Linked DNA regions of Homo sapiens. The protein of the gene in region 3 interacts with the protein of the main gene of each other region in a biochemical or structural test. Each region holds a gene or a part of one and is shown on either strand. Other genes may lie near its edges.

Region 1 (6,409 bases), on a different chromosome or scaffold from region 3:
AAAAAAAAAAAGAAAAGAAAATGCTGGGCGCGGTGGCTCACACCTGTAATCCCAGCACTTGGGGAGGCCAAGGCGGGTGGATCACCTGAGGTCAGGAGTTCGAGCCCAGCCTGACCAACATGGTGAAACCCTGTCTCTACTAAAAATACAAAAATTAGCCGGGCATGGTGGTGGGTGCCTGCAATCCCCACTATTTGGGGGGGCTAAGGCAGAATGGCTTGAACCCAGGAAGCAGAGGTTGCAGTGAGCCGAGATCGCGCCACTCTAGCCTGGGCGACAGAGTGAAATTCCATCTCAAAAAAAAAAAAAGAAAAAAAAATTGTGTGTGTGTGTGTGTGTGTAGGACCAGCTCATATGTTGCGTTATCTGTATCTGTTGGGGTAACTTGCATGCGTGTTAGAATCGGAGGCTGTCAGTTTGCAGTCAGCAACCTGGGTCTGCTGGGCACAATGCAGGTGTGTGTTCCTCCCTGGGCCCCCAAGTAACGAGCATGCGGCAAGGCTGTTACAAAGGCGTTTAGTTTATTCTCATCAGTATCACTGATATTCTCATGGTTCACATTTGCCAACGCCGCTCCTCTCCTTACAGTAGTTAAATGTGCAATCTCACTTGGGGGCCCAGGGAGGGGTGGGGGCTCGGCCCAGGGTGGGGAGGGCGTTGGCACTTCACGTGGACAGGGTGGGCAGCCTGTCCTGCGTGAAAGAGGTGTGGGTTGAGTGGGCGGCCAGGGAAGGGGAGTTGGCAGGGGAGGGCCCCACAGTCTTTTTTCTCTGGTGGTTGGTGATTCTCCATTCAGATTCCTTCCTGGCTGCCCAGGGTGGGGGAACCATGCAGCTCAGGGCAGGGGAGGAAGAGAAGGAAAAAGCAGCAGGCCGCCCAGGGGTAGGGGTGGAGGGTGAATGGCAGGGCAAGGGGGGTACAGGGGTGGCTCCTGGGGTAAGGCACAACCCTGTCTTTGGCTCTCCTGGTGAGGAGTTTCCTCCCCTGCACCCCCTGCCCGACCCTTCTCCCCACCCCCCCACCCCCCGGACCCACACACAGTCCTGGGAGCCAGGGGGCACCTCCTGGGGTCCCTGAAACAAGTGGGCTCTGCCACCCAAGCCAATGCCACAGGGGCTCGAGGAGGGACACCCGAGGAAAAGGCAGAGAGGGGCAGGCAGGGGCCTACCCAGGACAAGGGGGTGGGGGTGAGAAGACCCCAGGCCCAGGAGCTGGCCCCCCCACCCCAACTAAGGCCTGGAAGTGGGGGAGCACCTTCCTTTCAGGGGTCTGGCTGGAGCCCCGGTCTGCCCCTCGGCCTCCGTCAGGCCCAGCCGCTTGCCAAGTGACCAGGGCATTGTGCTTTGGGGTAAACGCTGGGGTGGGGTGGCAGGCCAGGAGGCGGGGGGAGAGGAGGGGTGACTAAGGTGCTTGTGCTTTAGCTGGGGGTGTCAATATCCCCCACTCAGGCCGGCTGGGGGCTAAGGTTTCAGGCCCCGGCCAGGAAGACAGTGCCAAGACCCCAGCCAGACCCTGGCACTCATGACTGACCCCCGCAACAAGCAGATGTTAAGAGGGACCCCCAGTGGGCCGGCGGGGCTGCTGGTCCCATCGGGGGGATGGTCTCCAAATCAGATTACAAGGGTCCAGTAGGGGCTGGCCCCCACCCCATCTCCTAAAATCCCCCTGCCCCTGGAGAGACCCCTGGGAGCAGTGGGTAGGTGGGGGTTGGGGAGGCAGATGAGAGGCAGGGAGGACGAGGGCCAGAAACACAAACAAGGATGTGGATGTGGATGGTGAAATGACACCCTGCATAGGGGGATGGGGAGTTAAAAAAGAAAAAAAACTGCCTTCACATGAAAATCTAAAACAACAACAAAAAACCACCCACTCTGGGCGAGAACAAAAAGAGAGGAATGGTAAAAGAGAAAATTCTGCAAACAACTGCTAACAATGGAAGTGGACCCGGCCCTGCCCTGCCCTGCCCAGCCCCCAGGAGCTGGGCCCAGCCAACCAGCCAAGGCCTGGGACACCCTTAAACTATAGCCCTGTTGGGGAAGGTGAACAGGGGAGGGGGACCCACAGGACCCACAGGAGCCTAGGCAGCAGCTGGGACTGGAGTCCTACCATGGAAACACACACACACACTCCACACATACACACCCACACACACACATTCAGCCTGCCCCCCAGCCCCCCAACACCGCCCTGCCTTCCAAGGCCCCCCACCCCTGGGGACCGAGGGGGACAATAGACACAGCCCCATTGGTTTGAAAAATAAAAGGAATCTTATACTTCAATATTTCATTCGCTAAAAAAAGGTTTTAAAAATTATGTACAGGGGGGTGGGGGCCAGGAGCCCTGCTGTGGGGTGGGGTGGGTGTGGGGAGATGGAGGGAGGGGCAACAGCCCCCCAGTCTGCTCCCCTGGGTTCCAACCCAGGTCCTACTGCCTCTTGTATCTTCATTTGTTTGAAAGCAAAACTTCTGCACACACACACGCACACACTCTGCCAGCCCTGGAAACCTCTCATTCTATCCTCCGAGACCCTCGGTCTGCCCCCAGGAGACCCCCCCTCCTTTAGGACCTGCCTCTCTGAGGCCCCAGAGGACCAAAGGGAGCAACAGAGGCGGAAGAGGAGAAAGGGCACCAGGCACGCCACTGCCGGCCACCTGAGGTCGGTTGTGCAATTTCTCGGAGCCTGTTTCCCCAGCTATAAAATGGGTAGTCCCCACGGCCTCGCCTACCCCAGCCCCCAGGCGCAGGGATAGACGAGGGTGACAGGAAGGCGCTTTTGGAGACGTGGAAGCACTGGGAGGTGGTGGGAGGGGTCCTGAGAACCCCTGGGGCCCCCCTCAAGTCCCAAGGGGCTGCAGTGAGGGGCGGAGGCTGAAGGCTTCCGCGAGGTGGCCTAGGGCCTGGGGAGGGGCCTTCCCAAGACCCCCAGGCCAGCCCCCTCCCCTGGTGGGCCTGGTGAGTGTGGAGATGACGGCTAGGGGTTAGGTTGGGGAGCCAGAACTCCCCCACTGCACGAGTGTGTGTTAAAGAAGGCAACACGGACCTCACGCCACCTGCCCTGCGGTCCTCTCCCGGCCCAGCTCTCGGTGGGGAAAGGGGGTAGGACAGGAGGGGCAGAGGGCCGGGAACATGCAGCACCCACCGCGGGTCCTGGGGAGGGACAGACAGTAGCTCATGACCAAGATGGCAGGTGTGTGTGTGTGTTGGGAGGGGAAGTGTGTGGCCCCGCGGGAGGCTGGGCGGGTTACTGCAGGGCTTCAGCCGAGGGACCCGCCTCGCCCTCGTGGCTGGCGGTCTCGAAGCCATGCTCCACACCCATCATGTCCGGCTCGATCTTGCCCGTTTCACTGATGAAGGTGGTGTAGGCGTCATCCTCAGCCTTGAGCACCTTGACCTTGGGCATCCAGCTCTTGCGCACGACGCGGCGGGCGTTGGTGCACATGTCGGCCGCGATGGCATTCATCTCGCTCTCCTTGAAGTTGGGGGCGAAGTTCTGGCAGTAGTCTGTGGGGCAGGGTGGGTGCGGCCTTGGCACGGGGGCCAGGTGACTCCCACAAGGCCTACTCACCAGCTCCCCTACAGCATCTGCGACTCCCTCTCAAAGGGGAAACGAGTGAGGCCACGCGGCCAGGACACCACACTACGTGCACCCAACCCTACACCGGACTGAGTTCAGCCATGTGTGGGGATGTGTTGGTTTTGATGGGATGGCCCCGTGTTCTTGAAAAATTCGGATCATTTGCCAGAATTTAGTAACGGGGAGTGGTCACTTGAAAATCTAGATGCCCCCCATGACGAGTGGCTAGCACTGTCTGGCTGCCTCATCCCTCCCAGACTGCCCTGAGTTCGAGACCCTCCTGCCTGACACAGGCTCCCTGGCTTCCCTTCGGCACGTGCATCCCCCAAACACGAAGAAATCTCTAAGCAATCACAGCCGGTTTCCCAGCAAGGCTAGAATGAGCCCCAGAATGCTTCTCAACACTGAACTCTAGCCCTCTCTGAGAGCCAAGGCTGGGAAAAAACGTCAACCTGCGTGCCCCGGGCCCACGCCTCGTCCAGCTGGGCCAACACTCACACTTGACAGCGTGGAGCACGCGGCTGTCCAGGGGCTTCCGACGGGGATCGTTGGTAGAAGAGCGGATGCCGGTGCCGCAGCTGTTGGCCAGCGTGTTCCTGGGGGCAGGGGACATGGAGGGAGTCAGCGCTCAAGTTGGTGGTGGGGGGGACATGGGGAAACCCCACCCCCCTCCCTGGGGCTCTGGCAAGGGCCTTACCGGTCAAAGAAGGAGGCCAGGAGCCGCCGCAGTAGGACCTTGTGCCGCGTGCCTGCGCTGACGTGGCAGTTCATCAGCTGCGCCCTTGTGATGTACACGTTGGTGCCTGGTGAGAGGAAGCCGGAGGATGGCCTGGGGTGCCCCCAAACCGCCACAGCCCCCATGATACCAGGCCTCATCTCAGAACACCCCAGGCCCTCCCTGCTGGGCTCTGGGTCCCAAGAAAACTCACCCAGGGACCTTCTCCCCTACATCTCTACCCACCAAGGGCAGTCAGGGGAGGCTCCTTGGGGCTCCCCCAACCTCATCAGTGCTCAGGAAAGGACAGAAAGGGTTGCTTCACCATCCTCGGGGTGCCTGCTGTGTGGCCAGTCGTGCCGCAAGCCTGTGTGAGGTGGGCACGCTGGCTGTCACCAGCTAGAGATGAGCCCAAGCTCAGCAGGACCAACAGGGAGTGGAGGCTCACACCTAGGCACTCTGACCCAAGGACCAAACACAGTCTTCTTCTTCTTTTTTTAAGAGATGAAGTCTCACTCTGTCACCCAGGCTGGAGTGCAGTGGCCACCACAGCTCACTGCAGCCTTGACCTCCTGGGCTCAAGGGATCCTCCCACCTCAGCCTCCTGAGTAGCTAGGACTACAGGCATTCGCCCCTGTGACTGTCCAAATTCCTAACCTAGGTAGTAGCTGGCCTTCACAGGAGCCCGGGAAGTAGCTAATCTACCCATGCGGCCAAACAATAATAGCCAATGCTCGCCCCGACCCCTTAAGCCAGAAACCTAGAGGCCAGGCCTTGCTGTATCAGCTCCTCCATCTCACCAACGCCCCCACCCTTAGGGTGGCTGTTACCAACACTACAGCACAGATAGGGAAACTGAGGTGCTGGGGGCTCCTAACCAGCTGCCCAGCCCAGCCCAGGCCAGCCGGCTCCAAAGCTGCGGAGGGGAGAGATCTGGGGCGAGACCGGCCCACCTGTCACCAGCTCCAGCTTCTCAGAGGGGTCGCCCTCGTCGTAGAGCTTGGGGTGGCAGCGGTTCCCAATCTGGTTGATAAGTTCAGCCGGGAGAGACGCCAGGTCTTGCCGAACCCGGATGCGATTTCGGGACTCGGGGGCTACCTGCTCCGGGAGGGCCTCCACCTTCTCGGCTGCAGGGAGAGAGTGGCACGCGAGTGGCAGGAGGAGCAGGGGTGGCTGGTGGGATGGGGGACAGGACGGCACCTCACCTGTCTGGCCGACGTTCATCATGCTGTACATGGTGTACATGTTGCAGATCTGCCGGTACTGCTCATCCATGCCCTCCTCGCCACCATCCTCCTCCTCGTCCTCCTCATTGTGGTAGGAGCCAGGGCTGTCGCTGGTGTAGGCGCTTGAGGTGCCTGGGCTGGTCCGCTCCGACGTGCTGGGCCCACTCACCACACCCCCTGCTGCTGCCACCCCACCGGCTGGCTGCCCTGCTCCCGCAGCCACGGCGGGCTGGGCTGCTGCCACCACCGGAGCCTGTTGGGGTGGCGGGGGCTGGTGAGGCCGGTTGGCAGCCAGGTCCGGCGTGGAGAACTTGGCCATCTTGCGGCTGCCATTGCCGCCGCCCCCAGCCTCCTTCTGGCCACTGTCCCACAGCCGCTTGGCCACGGGCATGCACTGCACGGAGTCCGACTCCTGCTGCTCCGTCTTCACCCGCGACACGAGGGGCAGCGGGGTGCTACAGGCTGGCCAGCCCGATGTCTGCGCCACGGGGCTCTGGGGCTCCGACGATGGGGCCTCCTCCGCATGCAGGCCCTGGGAGTCGCAGCTCGGGGAGCTCACCTTGAGGAAGAACTCGGTGCCCTTCTCCATGATCTCCTGGATCTGCAGGAAGCCAGCCGTGTACATGAGCAGGAACTGGTCGCCCACGTTCATGCTCAGCCGGCCCGTGTAGCAGAAGCTGAGGATCTGCTGGAAAGACTGGGGCTGCACAGCCGCCGGCAGCTCCACCACGGCGCTGCGGCTGTTGTTGAACAGGTCCCGGAAGTAGGAGCTGCTGGCAGCAAGCACGGCCCGGTGGGCCTTGAAGGCATGGCCCTTGACCACCACTGACACGTCACAGTACAGGCCCTGCAGCCGCTGTTCATTGAGGCACTCCAGGATGCTGTTGCCGAAGT
Region 2 (7,025 bases), about 230 Mb from region 3:
ACACAAACATAAATACCACAATATTCCCATCAGATGGTTAATGAACACAATGCTATGTAGTCTGAAGGAAATAGAAACCTTTGAAAAGGCTTCACAAAGATACCGTTTTTTTGGGGTGAACGTTGAGGGAAGAGGCTGGCGGAGGTGTCAGTATTAAAGGAATATCCGGGGTAGGGCTTGTTCGGGGAACAGTGTGTCGGTGTGGCTGGAGCAGAGTTCATGTGCAGAGTTGCTGCAGGAGACAAGCCTGGAAAGGAAGGCAGCCATCATCATTTATAGAAGATTGGAGTAAGGGGGGTTTCTTCATTTGGTTCATGGGAAACTGGTTTTTTTAAAGTTTTATTTATTTATTGTAGAGATGGGATCTTGTTACACCCAGGCTGGTCTTGAACTTCTGGCCTCAAGCAGTCCTCATGACTTGGCCTCCCAGAGTCCTGGGATTACAGATGTCAGCACCACTGTACATGTAGCAGCATCTAGAATTCGTGGTTTGAGGGCTGACTAACCAGTCTGTGATCTGAACTGACAGATAAGGAAGTTATAAGACAAGTGATAATTGATGAGTTAGTAATTTAATAAGGAGTCTAGGAAAGTAGAGTAACACCTAAAGTTTTTGAACATGCGTGCTAACATAGGGTTTTCTTTTTTTCCTTTGGTGAACAGGAAGAAAGATTTGGTGTGGAGGAGGTGAGACTAACTTGGTAATTATAGAAGACTAGTTAAAGTAACATGAAGGATAGCTAAATTTTTGGTAGAAAAGAGCAGATATTCTCAGCCTCCTCCCTTTCATAGAGTAGGTTGGGGCAGAATTACTTAAACCATGTATTCAAAATAACTGTGTGAACAACTCTCAACCCTTTTGATAATCACGGTATTGAAAGAGGTTACTGAACCGTGGAAGCACAAAAAAATGTTAAAATCCAAGAGTAAAGAACTATAAGTGAACCAAACTCTCTAAGATGAGGGGAGTTAAGATTTCATCCAGTTAGAGCTGTCTCTCAGTGTCATTGTAAAACCGAAGACTTTGGGCTTAACTTTCTAAGTCTCTTCGAGTTCTCATGGTTTGGGGCTGTAGAGTAATGCAGGTCCTAGCCATTCTGCTCTGCTCTGACATCCTTCCACCTCTTAAATGAGTAGTTTTTAAAGTCCAGATTGAAGAATACATGACAGGTTGAAAACTGGTGACTTTAGGGAAATGGCTTCAGAAAGAAGTGAGGCAGAAGTCATTGGTGATCTTACTGAGTGTTGGCAAGAGCAAAATTTAGACACAAAAAAACTGGGCTTTGGCTGGATGTGGTGGCTCATGCCTGTAATCCCAGCACATTGGGAGGCCAAGGCTGGTGGATCACCTGAGGTCAGGAGTTGGAGACTAGCCTGGCCAACATGGTGAAACCCCGTCTCTACTAAAAATACAAAAAAATTAGCCAGGCGTGGTGGCACATGCCTGTAGTTCCAGCTACTCGGGAGGCCGAGGCAGGAGAATCACCTGAATCTGGGAGGCGAAGGTTGCAGTGAGCCGAGATGTGCCACTGCACTCCAGCCTGGGCCACAGAGCGAGACTCTGAAAACAAAAACAAAACCCTGGGCTTAAATATTACAGGTAAGATGTTTAGGAGTCATTAAGAAGAACTTGGATGTGAGGGAAGGGCAAATGGAAAAAGTTAGAGGGGTTCACAAAGCTCTTCTGGGACTTGGGAACAAAATCTGTCATTTACAAAGTCAGTGACCTTGGAATAAGAACCAGGCAGTTTGAGTGTATACAAGATAATTTCTATCTTAGACATCATATTATCCTCTCCTGTACATCAGTTCTAGTAGAATTTCAGTAAATTACTTCAGCATAATGCATAAACAATTTCAGAAACTAAAGTGCATATCGCAATTTTTAAAAATGAGAGTTAAAATAGTATGTAGGGAATCTCTGGAAGTTGTCTGTCTTAGTGTAAAAGCTTTGTAACCTTAATTGAGTAGTATGCTTGAATTTAGTTGTGTTTAAATTTAATCTCAATAAAAAATGTCTTACGCTGCTCATTATTTTTTAGTAAGACTGATATGTTTTTCTTCATAGTTAATGAATCTGAATGTGATTTTATTGACACAGTGGAAAAAGTATGGGCTCTGAATCAATTTTTGAATCGTTGCTCCATTACCTTTTATTTTCGTGGACTCTGGCAAATTTCTTAATCCCTCAGACTCTCTCTCTTCTGTAAATTGATGATGGTGCCTGCCTTTATGGGCTTGTAGTTAGAATAATGGCTCATAATTAACATTTACCAGGTATTCACTGCACACTAAACACTATTTTAAGCACTTTATACTCACTTTGCTCCCCTAAGGTAGGTTGATAGTATCTCTGTTTCAGAGTTGAGGAAAATGAGGCATAAAGAAGTTAGTAATGTGGTCAAGATTACAAAGCTAGTAAGTGTTAAGAGCAAGGATTTTAACCCAAGTGGTGTAACTGCTTATGACATGAAACACAGTAGGCCCTAAGTACATGGCAGCTCACTTAAGACCATGGTGTGAATTTCTGTTTTGAGGAATTTGTGCATTTTAATAAATATAAGACATTAATGCTTCTAACGAGGAAGGTAGACCTGTGATGGGCAAAACTCCTAGTCTGTAATATTGAAGACTTTCTTATACACACAATAGTGTAATAAGATTTAAAAACTCATTGACGTTGTGGGTTTTGCCCTTAGATTGTAGGCTGCTTAAAGGCAAGAGTTTTGGGGGGTTTGGGTTTTTTTTTTTTTTGTGATGGAGTCTTGCTCTGCCACCCAGGCTGGGGTACAGTGGCGCCATCTCAGCTCACTGCAACCTCTGTCTCCCGGGTTTAAGCAATTCTCCTGCCTCAGCCTCCCGAGTAGCTGGGATTACAGGCATGCACCACCATGCCTGGCTAATTTTTTGTATTTTTGGTAGAGATGTGCCCCAGCCAAGGTTTTTGTTGTTGTTTTTTAAAGAATGAAATGGGCTGGGCATGGTGGCTCACGCCTGTAATCCTGGCACTTTGGGAGGCCGAGGCAGGTGGATCACCTGAGGTCAGGAGTTCGAGACCAGCCTAGGCAACATGATAAAACCCCATCTCTACTAAAAATACAAAAAATTAGCCTGGCGTAGTGGCGGGCACCTGTAATCCCAGTTACTTGGGAGGCTGAGGCAAATTGCTACAATCGGGGAGACAGAGGTTGCAGTGAGGCGAGATTGTGCCATTGCACTCCAGCCTAGGCGACAGAGCGAAACTCTTGTCTCAAAAAAAAAAAAGAGTGAAATAGAATATTGTAAGTTTAAGGTTAGGTTCGTGTCACTCAACCAGGTGATTTTACCCACTCCCCACTGCCCCCAGCGGAATTTTGGCAACATCTGGAGACCTTTTGGGTTAAGACTTGAGGAAGGAAGGTGCTGCTCACGTCTAGTGGGTAGAGAGGCCTGAATGCTACTAAACATCATGCGGTGCACAGGACACTCCCCAACGAAGACCCCAGCCCCCCCCATGCCAATAATGCCAAGGTTGAGATGCCTTGGATTAGTCCATAAATAAAATGAGCTGTATTAAGTTGTATTGGATTGTGTCATGCTGTCCTTTGGCTTCTTCCTAACGTGTTGATATCTTACCTGAACCTCTTGTCTAGCTAGACTTGTCATTTTTCCCCTTGTCATTATTGTGTGTATGCTGTTCAAACTCTACAGTTCACCTTACTGAAACTTATTCAGTGGGTCCTATTTTTTGTTTGGTTTGATTTGATTTGTTTTTATTTTTGAGACAGAGTCTGGCTCTGTGGCCTAGGCTGGAGTGCAGTTGCGCCATCTGGGCTCACTGCAACCTCCACCTCCCGGGCTCGAGCCATCCTCCCACCTCAGCATCCGGAGTAGCTGGGACTACAGGCACTTGCCACTATGCCTGGCTAATTTTTGTATTTTTTGTAGAGATGAAGTTTTGCCATGTTGCCCAGGCTGGTCTTGAACTCCTGAGCTCAAGCAATCCACCCAGAGTGCTGAGATTACAGGCGTGAACCACTGTGTCTGGCCGGGTCCTATATTTTCAAAGTGCCACTTCTTCATAGTTGTCTCCAAAGCCCTGAGCTCTTTTAAAGACTTCGCACAGACTGCAATTATATTGAAATCTATTAGATGCAGTGAAAATTGATGAACGGCAAATCTCCTCCCCTCCTTCATAGTAGCTTGGCATATGTGGTTCAGACTTTTTAAATTTAATTTTATTTATTTATTTATTTATTTTGTTGAGACAGAGTTTTGCTCTTGTTGCCCAGGCTAGAGTGCAGTGGCGCAATCTTGGTTCACCTCAACCTCTGCCTCCGGGTTCAAGCAATTCTCCTGTGTCAGCCTCACAAGTAGTTGGGATTACAGGCATGCACCACCACACCCGGCTAATTTTGTATTTTTAGTAGAGACGAGGTTTCTCCGTGTTGGTCAGGTTGGTCTCAAACTCCCGACCTCAGGTGATCCTCCCGCCTCGGCTTCCCAAAGTGCTGGGATTATAGGCGTGAGCCACTGCACCCGGCCGTGGTTCAGACTTTTAATGCAGTGGTGAACACTGTCAACAATTTTTCTCCAAACAACCCCTGGGAAGAAGATCGTTGTTGCATGCTTTATGCTAGGATTTACTTAAGTTCTCGAAGTGGAATTTCCAAATCAAAAGATGTGCGGTTTTTTCCAGATAGCCTTCTGAAAAGGTATGTGTATACACTGTCATCAGCAGTGGTTGAGAAGGTCATTCATTTCCCCTAACCCTTTCCAGCACAAGCAAGTTTTTAAGGCTAACAAAAATCTGGTGACCAGAAGGTTTAACGTCTTATCTCCTTGTTCAGTATTGGATGTATGAGGACCACCTCCCTTCTCACAAAGGACTGCTTAAGAAAACTAGTATTTTTAAGTCTCATGTAGTTTCATTTAGAACATGATACCATAGCATGGGATTAGTTCAGTCAAGGTGTTGCTTTGGCAGTTGGGAAATCTGGTTGGCTATGGTAATGTTCTCTATTTTTATCATTAAGACCAGTTTTTGTATTTAACACTAATCCTTTCCAAATGGCAACAGAAAACGTATCTGAATTCATACCACTGACTTTCTGGATATCAGGGAGGTGGTAGAGAGACATCATTTAAAAGATGTGAAGAGAAGCAAAGTTTATCCATTGCTACTTTAATTAAACTCTTAATCCATAGATAAGTCAGTGATAAATATGATAAATTACTAGATTTGAAACTATTGTTTGCATATTGAGTATTTAAAGACAAAATGATGATAATACCTAGGACTTCAGAGTAATTGGGGGAATACAGATGAAACAGGAGTGTCTATGAATTAATATAGTTGCAGCTGGCTTTAATTGGAATTCATTGTACTATTCTTTGTTCTCCTGTGTACCTTTAAAATTCCCTATTATAAGTTTTTCCTCCCCTAGAAATTCCACTCTTAGGTGTTTACGCAAGAGGGAATGATGCATGGGGCCAAGGCGCATAGGTACAAAAATGTTAATAACAGCTTTATTCTAAGAGCAGAAAACTAGAAATAATCCACTAGTAGGAAAATTGATAAACACTGATGTATTCATAAATGGAATACTATTCAGCATTAAAATGAATGGACCACTGATACTACAATATGATTGAATTTCAAAAACATGCTAGGTGAAAGAAACTTTGCATGAAAAAGTACATAGTGTATGTGATTCCATTTATATGAAATTTTAGAACAAACACAACCTGTTTATGGTAGGAAAAAAAATCAGGAATAATGGCCTCTGTGGGAGAATAGGCAGAGATTGGGAAGGGGCAGGCTTCTGGGATAATTGTATTTTTTTTTTTTTTTAATACTTTAAGTTCTGGGATACAAGTGCAGGACGTGCAGGTTTCTTTCATAGGTATACATGTGCCATGGTGGTTTGCTGCACCCATCAGCCCGTCATCTACATTAGGTATTTCTCCAATGCTATTCCTCCCCTAGCCCCCGACGCCCTGACAGTCCCCGCTGTGTGATGTTCCCCTCCTTGTGTCCATGTGTTCTCATTGTTCAACTCCCACTTGTAAGTGAAAACATGCGGTGCTTGGTTTTCTGTTCCTGTGTTAGTTTGCTGAGAATGATGGTTTCCAGCTTCATCTATGTCCTTGCAAAGGACATGAACTCATCCTTTTTATGGTTGCATAGTATTCCATGGTGTATATATGCCACATTTTCTTGATCCAGTTTATCGTTGATGGGCATTTGGGTTGGTTCCAAGTCTTTGCTATTGTGAATAGTGCTGCAATAAACGTATGTGTGCATGTGTCTTTATAGTAGAATGGATAATTGTATTCTTTAGTTGATATGGGTTTGGGTTTTATACATTTGTCAAAACTCAGCAAATGTACACCCAAGATTTGTGCATTTTGTATGTAAATTTTGCTTTGAAAAAAAACTAGTGATATGCCTGTACTTATGTCTTCAGCTTGTAACTGCTAGAAATGTATGGGTATCTGAAAAAGCAAGTATGGCAAAAGGTTAATGGTAAGATCCAGGTGGTGGATATGTGGGGGTGTTCACTGTAATTGTTGGTTGCCATGTATTGGGGGTTATGATATTTCACATCACTGGTTGAGTGTCTTTAATACATATAGCAAGAAGATAGTGTGTAGCCTGTGTCTTGTTATCCTCAAGATACGAGAATGTATAGAACGGTATTGATCCCCACTTAGGAGACATCACTGGCACCATCACTTTTTTGTTTGGGTGATGAGTGCTAAGTAGATTGATGGAGTTACCAGATGCTGTGTAAGACGTCTTAATTGGCCATACTCTGGGACAGTGGTTCACAAATTTGATCTCAGGACCCCTTTTTAGAAAATAAAATAACTTTAACAAAAAATTGAATGAGAATAGCGGCATTGCATTTCATTCAACCTATTGTAGTATTCCACCTCCTGTAGCTTCTGGAAAACTCCACTTGTGAGAAAATGACAGTGGAAAAAAAGCAAATATCTTAGACTTATGAAAGTGGTTTTACTTTGTCTCCTCTCCACCCCAC
Region 3 (7,025 bases):
TGAGGGCCCTGCTCATGGCGGGGCTGGGGGAGGGCCCCTGAGACACTGAGGACGGACAGGGGCTGGCTGGGGGAGTGAGAGAGCATGGGAGGTGGCAGGTTAAGAACAAGGCAATGACTACAACAATGATGCCAACACCTGCAGGGGCACATGAGTGCACAGCCCACTTAACCCTCATCAGGCTCACGGGGGCGGACCGCTTAGTATCCCCACTTCCTAGATGGGAAAACAAGGCACACAGAGCATAAGCGGCTTCCCAGGGTCATGGAGCAGGAGAAAGCTGGGACAGAGGCGGCTGTGTGGCTGCACTACGCTGCACACGTGACACTGGCTCCGAGGCTCCCTGCCAGGGGGTTTGCAGGATGAGCTGCTGGCAACCTGGGGAGGCTGTGCAGGAGAGAAGGGGCTTGCAGGGTTTTGGAGGTGGCGGCATAGGACTGGAGGGGCTTGCTGGGCACAGGCGTAAAGCAAGGCCAGAGCAAGCTGGGCAACCATGCATGGGCCCCCTGGTGGCACAGAGCCTGGGCAGGGCACGGTGGGCAGGTCCCCATGCCAACGAGCAAGCTGCACCTGGGAGGAAAAGAGGGATGAGCGCACACAGGGAAGAAGCAACGCCGAGTTCAGTGCGTTTCTCAGAGAGGTGAGACCCATGCACACTCGATATCCAGGTTCTATCAAAAAGGCTGTTTTCCAAAAACCTGATACACAAGATTACGCATGCTATTTAATCGTGCAGAATAAACTGATTTAGAGAAGGAAAGAAGATAAGTGACAAACATCTCTGACGAAGTGAATCCCAGGAATCCTGAAGATCAGGCACATTTTACGTTTTTAAAGACAGGCGAGAAACTCAGGTGTCCTTCACTACCCACACTCGTGCCAGCTGATCTAGAGCATCCAAGAGACTCAGACGCAACCTCAGATACATTCCTCCAGAGAGATCCGCGTGCCTGCCACTGTGGCCGCAGCTCAGAGAGGCACTGTGAGGGCTGCCCCCTCCCTCGTTACACCACGGGCTCCTCTGCTCTGGACAGGCAGGGACACGAATTCAAGCTTCTGGAGAAACAAACAGAAAGGGGCTCAGGCACAAAACAAAGATTGCGCCATTTGGCTTCTGGGCAAAGAAGGAATAAGAAGGAATCCTCTCTGTCTAAACAGAGACACATGGGCAGCACAAAACAAGAAAACACCAAAATCCACCAGACTAGTCAAGCCAGAGGCCCAAGCCCACCCAAGCCAGCCCCTAGCCCCACGCATCCTGCAGCGCAGCCTCCTACAACACGCCAAGCCCCTGAGTTTTCACCAAGTTCACTGCCAGAGTTTCACAGGTGCAGCTCTGAGGGTATTTCAGCTTTCAATTGGCAACAACAGGTTTCCAGGAAGCCAAACACAAAGCTATGAAGATGTACAACGATGACCCGCACGGCAAGGGGGTAGGTAGCTGCTCCCTCATTTATTTATTTTTGAGACGGAGTCTCGCTCTGTTGCCCAGGCTGGAGTGCAGTGCCACCATCTCGGGTCACTATAACCTCTGCCTTCCAATTTCAAGCAATTCTCCTGCCTCAGCCTCCCAAGTAGCTGGGATTACAGGTGTGCGCCACCACGCCCAGCTAATTTTTGTATTTTTAGTAGAGACGGGGTTTCACCATGTTAGTCAGGCTGGTCTTGAACTCCTGACCTCACGTGATCCGCCTGCCTCGGCCTCCCAAACTGCTGGGATTACAGGTGTCAGTCACCGTGTCCGGCCGGTGTGCCCTCATTTCTGAAGTGACACTTTCACATTGCTGTTGCTATGTAATTTCATAAGGACGTTCCCATTTTCCTCTAAATTGTATTTTTCTAAATGTAACCACTCCCCCAGACAGTGCACATTTGTAAAAGTTCGCTAACACAAACTGACCACAAGAGTCGGTTCTGGGCTTCCAGCGCTGGCTCAGCTTGGTCCAGACAGAAACCCAAATCGCAAGAGCCGGTGGCCTCTCCCAAAAGGTGAGAAAGGGGAAGTGACTTCTGTTTCCACTCCATCTACCTGACTCTGGGAGTGAGGCATGGATTTTCACTGCAGTCACGGTGGCTACATCACGTGATGGGGATGTGTGTTTGGGAACTGTGGGGGTGGGACAGGCGTGCATTCCTGTCTCCTCCAAAGGCAGGCGAAGGCGGGGCACCATCCAGAGCGTGGGCAGCCTCAGAGCCTGGCTGCACCCAGGCCCATTTGTGCTCACCTGTGACGAGGGGTGCTTGTGCCGGCGGCTGCTCCAGTAAGACCATGTGCTGCAGAAGAGGGCTGTGCGCTGCCCCTCCGTCCCGCTCCAAGGGCGAGGTGCTCAGGTAGGGAGTGAGGTGGGTGCCGGGGAAAAGGGAGAGCCTCTGCTGGAGGGCGGGAAGGGTGAGTCTCTCGGCGTCCTGCTGGCCCGCCGTGCCCTGGAAAGCACAGCCAGGATGCTCGGGTGGAAGGACCCATCACCACCACCCCACACCACACGGACCCACGGGGGCTGACTTACCGCAGAGGGGCCGGTGGCAGGCAGGCCCAGCGTGATGTTGGGCAAGGATGGCGATGTGTAGAGGGGAAGTGGAGCGGCCGAGCCTTCTCGTGCCACAAGTCTGTGCGCCAAACTCGTCTGGGGACAGAACACACGATGACCATCACAGTCTGTCACGGCCAAACATCAGCAATATACACCAAGAAAAACAACGATGAAAACACCTGCACTGAATTCTGATATATGAGCGTAAACGTACATGTAACAAATGAGACAGCAATGAGAGCATGAGATTTCAACACGTGCCACAACATGAAAGCACAATTCACCACTCCAGTTTCCTCCTCCCGATACGAGTTCTTCTTCTGTCACCTTGTCCAGCATCATCTCGTTGATTTCTATTCAGTTTGATTATTTACCACAGAACAGTTAGAAGGAAATCTAGGCTAATATAGTTTACAATGCCGTTTTGCAGTTTCTAGGATAATATAGTTTACAATGCTTTTTTGTAGTTGGCAATGTCTTTCCAGACATAACATCAAAGGCAGAAAACAAAAAGGAAATAACATTTAACTGTACATTTAAAAATAACTATAAGGGTATGATTGGATTGTTTGTTACACAAAGGATAAGCACCGGAGAGGATGGACATCCCACACTTCGCATGACGTGATTATTACAAATTGCATGCCTGTATCAAAACATCTCATGTACCCCACAAATATATACATTATGTACCCACAAAAATTAAAAATAAAGAGAAAATCATAAAACAACTGCCTCTACGAAAGGTGGGCAATGATGACAATACTGGCCATGTATGAGGCAGACGAGGGTCAGCACAGAGAGCTTGCAAATCAAACAACTAACAGTGAGAAAAGCACGCGGTGAGGACCAGTGACGGCAGAGCTCAGGAAGGGGAAGGCGCTCAGGAAAACACATCATGGTCATCAAAAAAGGTATTCTGAAACCCAACAAATTGGCAAACACTTTTGAAACATGGTAATACCATCTTGGCCTAGAGGAACGGCGAACACTGTTGGGTGAATCACAAATCAGTTAGTGGCACCCTTTCTGCAGGACAATTTGGCAATCTATGTCAAAGGCCTTCAAAATCTGTCTAACCTTTGATGCTGGAGCTCCACTCTTGGGATGTAACGTTAAGAAATAAGGAGATGGCCTGATGCCCATGAAGCCTCCGCTGCAGGGCCGAGCACCCAGCAGGCATGGCAGAGCTATGCGGCTTCCCCGACACCTTGGTGTTAACAGAACGGAGGGGCATTGCACACCGGGATGCTCTGGGGGTTGGGAACGATCTAGCTGATTACTTGGACACTTGTTTATGATACATTAAGTTAGAAAAACAGGTTATAGATCATGTACCTTTTAAAGAATGGGCTTGGATAAAGCAAACACAAGCCAGGAGTAAAGATTAGAAGGCCACACAGGAAGAGTCAGCAGCAACAGTCTCCAAGGACTTGAACTACTGTGATATTTAACATCTTTTTGCTTGTAGAATGAACGTGTTTTGCTAAAAAGGACAATAGTTTATCACCACTATATCCCCTACACAGTAGCTACTCAAGGAATGTCTGCTGAATGAATGGGCAAACAAAGAGAAGGAATAAAATGTTGTTGTAATCATGCTAGTTAGTGGGGTTTGGCAGATAGAAATCCCCTTGCCAGAAGCTAACGTTAATAATGAATAGATAACAGATTTCATTATACTCTCTACCTCCATGACAGCAACGTTTTTAGCTCCCCCAGATGAATGAGAAAATGCCATGTTTGTCTTTCTGTGCCTGGCTTAGTTCACTTAACATGAGGGCCTCTAGTTCCATCTATGTTGCTGCAAATGTCAGGGTTCTATCCTTTTTGATGGCTGCATGGTATTCCACTGTGTACAGCACCACATTTTCTCTGTCTATTCATCCACTGAAGGACACTGAGGTTGATTCGACCTCTTGGCTATTGTGAAAGATCCATGGCTAAGACCTCAAAAGCACAGGCAACAAAAACGAAAACAGGCAACTGGGACTCTGCTCAACTAAAAAGCTTCTGCACAGCAAAGGAAGAGAATCACCAGAGTGAAGAGACGACCTGTGGGAAGGGGAAACATGTGCAAGCCATTCATCCGACAAGGGAGCAGTATCCAGAACATGCGGGAACTCCAGCAACTCACCAGCAAAACCTGAAGCAGCCAGTATAAAAGTGGGCCAAGGATCTGAAGAGACATTTCCCCAAAGACATATGACTGGCCATTGGGGATAGGAAGAAACGCTTCTCCTGACAAACACTTACACTCAGGCTGTTCCTACAGAACAGAAAGCCCGGCCTTCTCACTTAGGAGCAAACTCACGGCGCACCTCGCCCCAGAGGAAACCCTGCAACTCCCTTTAGATTTGCTCACATATTACATTGTGTAAGGAATGATTAAAGGGCTACTGAGGAAAACATTTTTCCTAGGCAATTTTTTTTTTGTCAAAAGTTAAAGAATTATCAGTAAGTTATGCTGTAGAGGAAATGCTTGTGTTATCATTTGGGAACAAAATAAGGAGACGTTCTAATGTTTGCAAAGTTTTCATTTCCTTTGTAAGCAAGGTTTTTTTTAAGCCCATTTCTGGAACTAAAGGAGGCTTCTGAGAATTTGTTCCTTGGAGATGCCGACTGGTCCACCTGAGAAATCGCAGGGCGTTCTGGCATCTGCTGCCTCGGGGCCGAGCCCTGCGGGAGGCATTCTGAGGCTGGCGCCCCCGGACCGCATCTCAGCATGTGCTCAGAGGGAAAGTCCGCGGGCCTGAGGTCAGAGCATCCAGGCACGCGTGTAAATAACAGCAGCAGCGGCCACAGAGGAGCTGTCCCCTTACGCACCTGGGCGACTTCCTCTCACTCTCTGAGCCCTGCCTCCTCCCTGTAGAGGAGGTGCCGGCACACTGGGCTTCCCTGGCCTGTAGAGGAGGAGGTGCCGGCACTCTGGGCCTCCCTGGCACTGTAGAGGAGGAGGTGCCCGGCACACTGGGCTTCCCTGGGTCCAGGGGGCCTTCAAGGTACAGTAGTGTTTCTAGGGACCCCAGGGTGAACAGAAAAGGCAGTGCTGAGAGCCAGGCTGGGAGGCCCCTGCTCCCCCCACATCCTCATCCACTCGAGACACCCCCTCTGACGGGCAAGCTCACTACACTCTGCACCACGTGAGAACGGAGAGCCAGCCCCTGGCCATGAAGCACAGGTGTTCTCACAGACCCGTCCAACTCTAGAGATACTGAAACCCAGAAAGGGCGCCTGGGTGTGATCCAACATGCAAAGGCTGCCCGTGCCCACTCTAATGAACATCTGATGTGGAACATGAACAATGGCACCTCTTGGTATTTCCTGTAACTCCTTCTACATGTTCTATTAATTTCCAGTAGCTTCATTTACGTATCGTGATTTCTAAAAATTAACACAGAACTGGAATGATGCAGACCCACCCAAACAAGGCACTGTTCCAATATTAACTACCATGTACATAAGTGCCTCATTTTAAATAAAAACATGTATCTAGGACCACAATCAACAAGATGCAACCAGTGTTAACCTCAGGGCAGGAAGTAATTTCTAGGTTGCATTATAAGGCTTATTACTGGTAGACCTCAGCTATGACCACAGCCATACAGAGGACTGTTAAAACTTCTAATCATCTAAATAAGTACTGAAGTTGGCAGGCTGAAGAAGACAGGTAATAAAAGAAATCGATGTATGAAGTAGAAAGAGTAAGAGAAATTGGGGATTAAGCAGCCTGGAGACAAAGGGCAAAATTCGTTCTGAGCAGTAATTCTAGTCTCTAAAAATGTTTATACATAAACGGTCTTGAAATTTGAAATGAAAATGCTAAACACTCATGCCTCTGTATCCCAGCTAAGATTTGCCAATCCTTTGGAAGGGCAGGATTCATTTCTAAATATTTAAGAAGGAAAGTCAATAACTATATTTAATAAATTATAGCCTTCTGTAAGTTGGAGAGAATTCAGAAAGAACCTCCCACTCAGTAGAACTCTGCCCCATGAAGCAGACACAGCATTTCCAGCTCAACTCATCAGAAAACTCACTGCTAAAGCGTACCCCTCCCACCCCTGCCCTGCAGTCAGGCCCACCCAGGCCCAGGGCACCACTCAGCCTGCGGGACTGCCTCTCTCTGCCTCTCTCTTCTTCCCCGTGCTCTGGGGGTGGCCTCTCCTTGTCAGTGGGGCATTGTGTGGAGTGTGGGGCAGGTCCTTGCTGCCTGCCTGGTTCTGTCCCTGGGCCTGGCACAAGGCGCTCGGGACACGTGTGGGATAAAGGCAGGGGGCGCAAAGGAGCTCAAGGAACACGGAGCGAGGTCCTCGGACCTGCTGCCCTGGAAAGCCTCCGAGTATGGTCAGTGTGCGACTCGGCCAGCCTGGGCGCCACTCCTCCCTGCCTTGCCACTCAGCTCCTGCGTCTCTGACATCTTTCCCACCTAGGGACTCCAAGCGTCCCCTGACTCCTCTCTAGCTTGCCAATGTCCCTCCCAGACTGTGGCAC
Region 4 (7,025 bases), on a different chromosome or scaffold from region 3:
TCTCTTCAGCTTGTGGCTTCTCTTTTTCAGATGAAGACTGGCCCATTTGCAGAGCACTCCAACCAGCTGTGGAACATCAGCGCCGTCCCTTCCTGGTCCAAAGTGAACCAGGGTCTCATCCGCATGTATAAGGCCGAGGTGAGTGGGGGCTGGCCAGTGTGCCCGTCCCTGCTGCCGCACTTGGTCCTGGGCTGGGGACAAAGCAAAAGATGTGGAACCTGGGGCTCCTGCTTCCTCCTACCCCACTGTTTTGCTCTGAATCTTAGGCCAGCCCCTCTGACACTTGGGGCCTCGGAATCTCCCATCTGGGGCATGGGCAGTCAGAGAAGCACCAGCCACCCCAGCCCCGAAAAGCTGCAGTCCAGCTCTGTCCTGATGAGCTTGGAGGCTGAGGCAAGGACCTGCTGCATGGGGAGTGGGGGCGATGGGGGCCTCCCTTCTCCTTTATCAAGTGGCCAAAGGCTCCTCAAAGCTCGGGCAGTCTGAGTCTGGCTCTCCCATGGCATACCTGGGAAGGGTCTTACCCTTTGGAGGCATCTCCAAAGTGCTGCCTTCAAATGTTAGTGTGTATGATCACTGAGTGGTGGGAGGTCTGAGGGTAGGCCGAGAATTGGCATTTTTATGGACCGCTTCAGGGATTTTGATGCAAATGGTTTTCCCTGCTCTCAAATCAGATGCTGAGGAGAGGAGAGCTGAGGCTTCCTGGAGCTCCCCCTGCTGGCAGGCAGCCGAGGGTGTCTCCTGCCCTCTTGGCACTGTTCTCCCAGCCAAGGAGGTGGCCTTTTCTCTCTTCCAAGTGGGGAGGAGACATTTTATTTCTACTCTGTCCCTTCTGCTAGCTCCTCCCACTTCCTGGGAAGACTAATTCTAGAACTGCTTGACCTTGGCCAGGGAAGGGCTGGATGTGAAGTTCCACACCTGGAGTGATGGGTCCTTAAAGTCCCTTCTTTCTGTTCTCAGGCTGGCCCTTGTGACTAGTTCATGGCCTCAGACACTGTACTGTGGGCACCATCTCTTGACTCCTGGCCGGCCTTCTCTTCTGGGAAGGGGCTGCTCCAGGTCTTCATTGGACCCAGAGCTTCCTGGATCCCATCAGCAGAGGCGGGACAACGGGGAAGGGTGCCAGAGGCCAGCGGGGTGGGGGAGCACAGATGCTTCCAGTTGGCTTGGCTCCCTGCACTTGGTCCTGAAGGGGTTAATGAGGCTTGAACTGAACAGACCGGGCCCTCACTCCCTTCCGCCCCCTCCCCCTTTGGTCCCCTTCCTCTGGACCTCACATCCTGTGTTTAGGTTCCAGCCCACATACCTCTCTAATCTGAGAGGCCTGAGAGCCCGTTGGCTGGAGCTGCCTAGGTTCCTTCCGGCTGCAGCTGGCCACCCCCGGCTCTCCACTCCGACTCTGCCCTGGGTCACTGCCCTCTGGTGTCCTGATGTTCCTGACCCCACCCCCGCCTGTCCCACAGTGGGGGCTGCTGGGGAACTCTCACTCTGCTGTGCCCCGCCTCCAGGGTGTCTGAGCATGTGAGAGGTGCACATCGCCCACCAGCCACCTCCCAACCCCAACCCTTGTGTGCCAAAGAGAGGACTCTGGCTGCCTTCTCTGCTTGGTACCTGAAGTACTGTCTTCTCTACAAGCCTCTTAATTCAAGTGACTCTAAACTTCTCTCGACTCAGGCTCTAAGGCCCAAAGGATAGGGCAAGAGACCCTGTCCCCTTCTCTCACCTGCCCTTCCAGAGACAAAAGAACTCCAGGCTGCCAGAGGATGAGGGAGGAGCATATTCGGATTGAAAATGGTGATGGTGTGGCAGGAACACAGGGACTGTCCACTCTGCACAGGCTGTCGGGGTCTCCGTGGGGGCTGAGCACAGGGTGGCAAACACAAAGAGGACACTGAAAATGACCAACTCAGGATGGGGGAGCTCTCTAGTAATCTGAAAAAGGGAGATTCTAGCCCTAGTTGAGGCCGGCGCTGTGTGGGGAAGGGGACAGGCTCCTGTATAGGGTGACGCTGGAACTCCCTGACTTTAAGATCACCAAGTCAGGCCGGGCGTGGTGGCTCACGCCTGTAATCCCAGCACTTTGGGAGGCCGAGGTGGGCGGATCACGAGGTCAGGAGATCGAGACCATCCTGGCTAACACAGTGAAACCCCGTCTCTACTAAAAATATAAAAAAATTAGCCGGGCGTGGTGGCGGGTGCCTGTAGTCCCAGCTACTCGGGAGGCAGAGGCAGGAGAATGGCGTGAGTCCGGGCGGTGGAGCTTGCAGTGAGCTGAGATGGTGCCACTGCACTCCAGCCTGGGCGACAGAGCGAGACTCTCTCAAAAAAAAAAAAAAAAAAAGATCACCAAGTCTTTGCCTGTAATCCCAGCAATTTGGGAGGCTGAGGTGGGTGGATCACTTGAGGCCAGGAGTTCGAGACCAACCTGGGCAACATGAGGAAACCCCGTCTCTACTAAAAATATAAAAATTAGCTGGGTGTGGTGGCTCATGCCTGTGGTCCCAGCTACTTGGGAGGCTGAGACGGGAGAATCGCTTGAACCTGGTAGGCGGAGGTTGCAGTGAATTGAGATCACACCACTGCACTCCAGCCTGGGCAACAGTGTGAGACTCCGTCTCAAAGAAAAAAATCACTGGTTGGGTGCGGTGGCTCATGCCTATAATCCCAGCACTTTGGGAGGCCAAGGCAGGTAGATCACCTGAGGTCAGGAGTTCATGACCAGCCTGGCCAACACGGTGAAACACTGTGTCTACTAAAAATACAAAAATTAGCCTGGCATCGTGGTGCGCACCTGTAATTCCAGCTACTCAGGAGGCTGAGGCAGGACAGTCACTTGAATTTGGGAGGTGGAGGTTGCAGTGAGCCGAGATCATGCCACTGCACTCCAGCCTGGGCAACAGCGAGACTCCATCTCAGGAAAAAAAAAAAAAAAGATCACCAAGTCTTTGCAGTGTTCAACACTCATTGACAACTTACTAGCAACTAGCCCTTAGTCCTTGGTCCCGAAGGGCCCATGGGCTGGCATGTTGCCTACACAGAGGTCCAAGGAGAGGGCTTGTTTTCTCAGGCCAGTTCTTAGCCCCTAAGGAGGCCCTCCAAGGCCTGCCAGTCTTGCAGTCCAGGGGTGGGTAGGAAGGCTGGGTCTCCAGTCAGAACTGGTTGATTGAGGGGAGTCAGCCTCCTGGGCTGCCACAGAAGTCTGACCAGCCTGGCAGTAGGTGGCCTCAGGATTTGGGTCTAACTCTGCTCTGTCCCAGCCTTTCTGACCGAAGAACCAAGTGCTCTCAGGGGCCTTGTGTGGTTGCGGGGCGGCGGGGGGGAGGGTCTGTCTTTCCTCTGGGCCATGGCTGTGTGGGTGCTGCCTTCAGAAGGACCTTGTCAGGACCCAGGGAGTCCCTTCCCCAGCTTGAATCACCTCTGGCTGGAAGGTCAGGGGGCAGTCTGAAGCCGCTGCTCCGCCCAGGTACATGGGAGGGCCTTGCTGGGAGAAAGGCTGGGCTGGAGGCTCCTCCTGCCCTGGAGCCTTAGGCTTCCTTGGCCCAGCTCCTGTGGCTCTGAGGGGGCTGGCTCTGGGGTCCTGTGGGCAGAATGGGAAGAACCCCTGCCTCCACCCCTTCTCGCCTTGCAACTTCTTCTATGGGAGCTAGAGGGAGGTTGACCTTTGACCCCTTCTGGAATTCCAGGGCCCTTGGGGGGTGGGGGGGCTCTTATGACCACTTCTGGGATGACATAAGCACCATGGCAGCTGCCTTGGCCTCTGGCCTGGATCTGCGGCTGCTCCCCCTCCCGCCCAGGGACCACCTCCCGCTCCCTGCTCCCGCATTCTGTGTCTCAGGCCCAGGATCCTGGCTGTGGCCAGGGCTCTGCTCCCCACCCCACCATGAGCTTGGTTTCCATCCTTCTTTCCCTCCCCTCCTGGCGCCTCTTTGGCCCACTCGTCACCCTGGTGCTTCTCCCTCTTAGGTTCCACAGCTGATTTTTGAGGAGAGGGAACCTGGGCCAGTCATAGCACCCGTTTGTCTCTAAGTTAGTTGGAGGTTAAGATCACAGCCACAGAGTGAGGCTCTTACTCTCTCTGAGGCCATAAGTCTTGTTCCACCCCAGCCAGGAGGTGCCTAACATACTCTGTTTTCTGTGGCCAAAGGTGTGGGAGGAGGCCCTGGTCAGTCTTGGCAGATCCAACCCTCGCATGCCCAGAACGGCTCCTGTGAGAGCTAGTGTCCAGGTGTGGCAGGCATGGGGGTGCTGTTGCGGGAGCTGCAGCTGGAAGCTGGGGTTGGCTGCCTGTGGGCCAGGCCAGCTTCTGTGATAGGCCCTGTCACTTGCTCTCCAGCTCTGCTCCTCTGCTAGGAGCCCGGGCTGGGCTGGGCTCAGGGAGTCGGGCCTCCCCCGTGCTCAGCCATTCCCCTGTTCAGCGCTCTTTTTCCCCTGCCCCCCACACAGGCTGCTGGGAATTGCCCAGGGGTGGGGGGAACTCAGTGTCAGCTGGTTCTTATTGTCTCGCTCTGAAGTGCCAAGATGCCTTTTTCAGTCCAGAGAACTGAAAGCTGGAGAAAACAGGCTTTGGGACCCGGCCTCAGCCTCTTAGGCTTACGTTCAAATGTCCCCACGTCTCTTCTCTAGAACTGGGACCTGGGCTGGGGGTCCCCAGTGATCAGGAGGGTTCTTTCCACCTCAGGTTCCCAACTTCCCTCTCTGGGCCAAGTGATGGCACCTGGCTGCCTCTCTTCTCGGTTTCTACCTTGTAGGTTTGGGCTGCCTTTTCTCTTTCTCTCTCTCGTGGGTCTCGTTGTGGAGTGGGTGTCTTTGGATAGAAGGAGTGAGGAACTGGGGGAGGAAGGCCTGGGGGATCCCCTGGCGGGGCTACTTCCTGGGCCCGGGATGGACACCTGGGAGCTGCTGCGGTTGTTGGGGTCCTGGCAGGGGTGTGGTGTGGCCCTCACCACTCTGCTCACCTGCTCCTTCCTCACAGTGCCTGGAGAAGTTCCCTGTGATCCAGCACTTCAAGTTCGGGAGCCTGCTGCCCATCCATCCTGTCACGTCGGGCTAGGAGGGGCCAAGCCGAAGAGCCACCCAGGCCACAGTTCCTGTGCCTGCCTTCCCCACCCCAGCAGTGGCCCCTCCCCATCCCCTCCCTCTGTTCGTCCCGTTTGATGAGAGGCTGTTTACTGGGGTGGGGTGGCGAGATGGGCTTGAGGGGGCTCAGAGCATAAGGCTTCAGGGCCCAAGTTGGGAGAAGTGACCAAAGTGTAGCCAGTTTTCTGAGTTCCCGTGTGCTAGACTGGCCAGAAGAGAGGGTCTGGGGCCTGGTCACTCGGCCACTCTCTCCTGTTTCTGGCCTCTTCTCCCTTCACTCCCGTCCAGTCTGGTTTTGAGAGCAGGGGCTGTTCTGCAGCACCGCAGGGAAGGGAGGAGAGATACCTGCTGCTTCCATTGCTTTTCCCTTCCTGGAGTCGATGCCTTTCTAAGGGTTGGAGCTGCTCCTTGCAGGGGCGGGTCAGTTTCCCAGGCCATGCCGGGGTGGCCATCTATGGTAGGGCTGGAAGCTGAGGCTGGCCGCCAGCTGTGGGCTGGGGTGGGGTGGGTGGGGTCGGGTGGTGGAGAGGCCTTAGCTGTCCTGGCTGGTGCCCCTCCCAGGCTCCTTTTCACCCTGCCCCCTGGGCCTGAGGCCCCCTGTGTCCAAGCCTCCCCCTGGCTCTTCAGTTCTCTAGCCCTTGGCTCTGCTGGGTTTCCTGACTGTAGCCACATCTCTCCCGCTCCCTAAGGGTAACCTAGCCAATGGAAGCTGCCCTTTGGGTAGGTGCTGGGCTCCTGGGAGGGCCCAGATGATGGGGTGAGGCATGTCTTTCCAGAACTTTCCCTGGCAGGGAGGGGATGGCAGAAACTCAGGGAGGGGCTTGGGGCCCATTGTATCTGGAGAGCCTGGATTCCTCTTGGCAGTCTTAGGCCCGGCCACTTCTGCTACCTTTGCGCTGCTGTGAGCCTCACCCTGGGCCCCTGGGCCCTGCTTCTCTGCTCCCCTGGGTGATGGGTGGGCCCAGAAGGTGGCAGTCCCACACCTTGTCCTCCCACCTCCCTGAACTGTCCATTGCTTTTATAGGGTGAGGTAAGAGACAGCCTCCCAAGCCCAGGCTTTGGCACTCAGAATGGGCCCAGTGGGGGCTGGGCAGGCCCATTGAGGGCCACCGCCGAGGTTTCTCCTAGGGCTGTTCCTGGGCCTGGCTCTTACAGGCTCGTCCCCCAGGCCTGCCCTTCTCCACTGCCCCCTCCTGTGTCTGGGTCCACACACCCTTCAGGAAGGGGGAGCACTGAGAAGCACAGCACAGGGGCTCAGCCTGGGATCCGGTGATGGTCTGGGCAGAGGCTGGGTCAGGAGTCCCAAAGGTCAGTGACAGTTTCTCAGAAGAGGCCCAGCGTCCACCTCTCTCCCAGGGCCAGACAGCCCTTCCTGGCTCCCCCATCCCCCTATGGGCTCCCAGCCCCTTGCACCCTCATTGCTGTTCAGATTAAAGCCTCTGTTTTGCACCTGTCACTTGTGTGAGGTATGTCTTTTCATGTCACATGTTTAACCCATTTCTGCATGACTGACCTCCATCAGGTCCCCTTCTCTCAGGCCACAGTGTCTGAGACGAGCTGTTTCAATTTGGGTTGAGCCTTTCCTGGGTTTAAATCCTAGCTGTCTGCAGTCCCAGCTGCAAGGTTGTAAGTTACTGAAGCCCCTGAGCCCCAGCTTCCTCAATTCACAAAATGGGGACAGTCACAGGGTGACTGCCAGCAGTGGACAGCAGATGTGAAGTCCTCAGCTCAGGGCCTGGCACATAGCATATCCCGGGTGGTCACTGCAGCTGTGCTTGGTGAAGGGGGCCCCTCTGGACTCCCAACTTAGCCCCAAGCTGGCCAGGGAGCCTTTGGATGGGCTTTGACAGTGGAACATGCACCTGTGGTTTGTGAGGGGGTGGCCCTCTATTCTCCCTCCTCTGCCCCTCCTGTCCCTGCTGGGCTGGAGTTGAGGGTCTCTGGGGCTG

Evidence for each region.
Region 1: the proteins of HDAC4 (region 3) and NACC1 form a complex in vitro, tested with the Homo sapiens proteins (2 studies listed by BioGRID).
Region 2: the proteins of HDAC4 (region 3) and YWHAQ are reported together in a solved structure, tested with the Homo sapiens proteins (2 studies listed by BioGRID, with this or other methods).
Region 4: the proteins of HDAC4 (region 3) and PTPA form a complex in vitro, tested with the Homo sapiens proteins (one study listed by BioGRID).

The regions. Positions count from the first base shown.
Region 1 is NC_000019.10:13,135,239-13,141,647, reverse strand, and holds the end of NACC1 (nucleus accumbens-associated protein 1), read right to left. Parts: coding exon 5,495-6,409; intron 5,417-5,494; coding exon 5,243-5,416; intron 4,378-5,242; coding exon 4,272-4,377; intron 4,171-4,271; coding exon 4,073-4,170; intron 3,502-4,072; coding exon 3,242-3,501; 3' UTR 501-3,241; downstream 1-500. UniProt on the Homo sapiens protein: Functions as a transcriptional repressor. Seems to function as a transcriptional corepressor in neuronal cells through recruitment of HDAC3 and HDAC4. Contributes to tumor progression, and tumor cell proliferation and survival.
Region 2 is NC_000002.12:9,620,991-9,628,015, reverse strand, and holds part of YWHAQ (14-3-3 protein theta), read left to right. Parts: intron 1-7,025. UniProt on the Homo sapiens protein: Adapter protein implicated in the regulation of a large spectrum of both general and specialized signaling pathways. Binds to a large number of partners, usually by recognition of a phosphoserine or phosphothreonine motif.
Region 3 is NC_000002.12:239,132,020-239,139,044, forward strand, and holds part of HDAC4 (histone deacetylase 4), read right to left. Parts: intron 2,625-7,025; coding exon 2,508-2,624; intron 2,425-2,507; coding exon 2,226-2,424; intron 2,220-2,225; exon of another isoform or gene 1-2,219. UniProt on the Homo sapiens protein: Responsible for the deacetylation of lysine residues on the N-terminal part of the core histones (H2A, H2B, H3 and H4).
Region 4 is NC_000009.12:129,142,415-129,149,439, forward strand, and holds the end of PTPA (serine/threonine-protein phosphatase 2A activator), read left to right. Parts: intron 1-30; coding exon 31-138; coding exon of another isoform or gene 139-486; exon of another isoform or gene 487-4,972; coding exon 4,973-5,050; 3' UTR 5,051-6,532; downstream 6,533-7,025. UniProt on the Homo sapiens protein: PPIases accelerate the folding of proteins. It catalyzes the cis-trans isomerization of proline imidic peptide bonds in oligopeptides. Acts as a regulatory subunit for serine/threonine-protein phosphatase 2A (PP2A).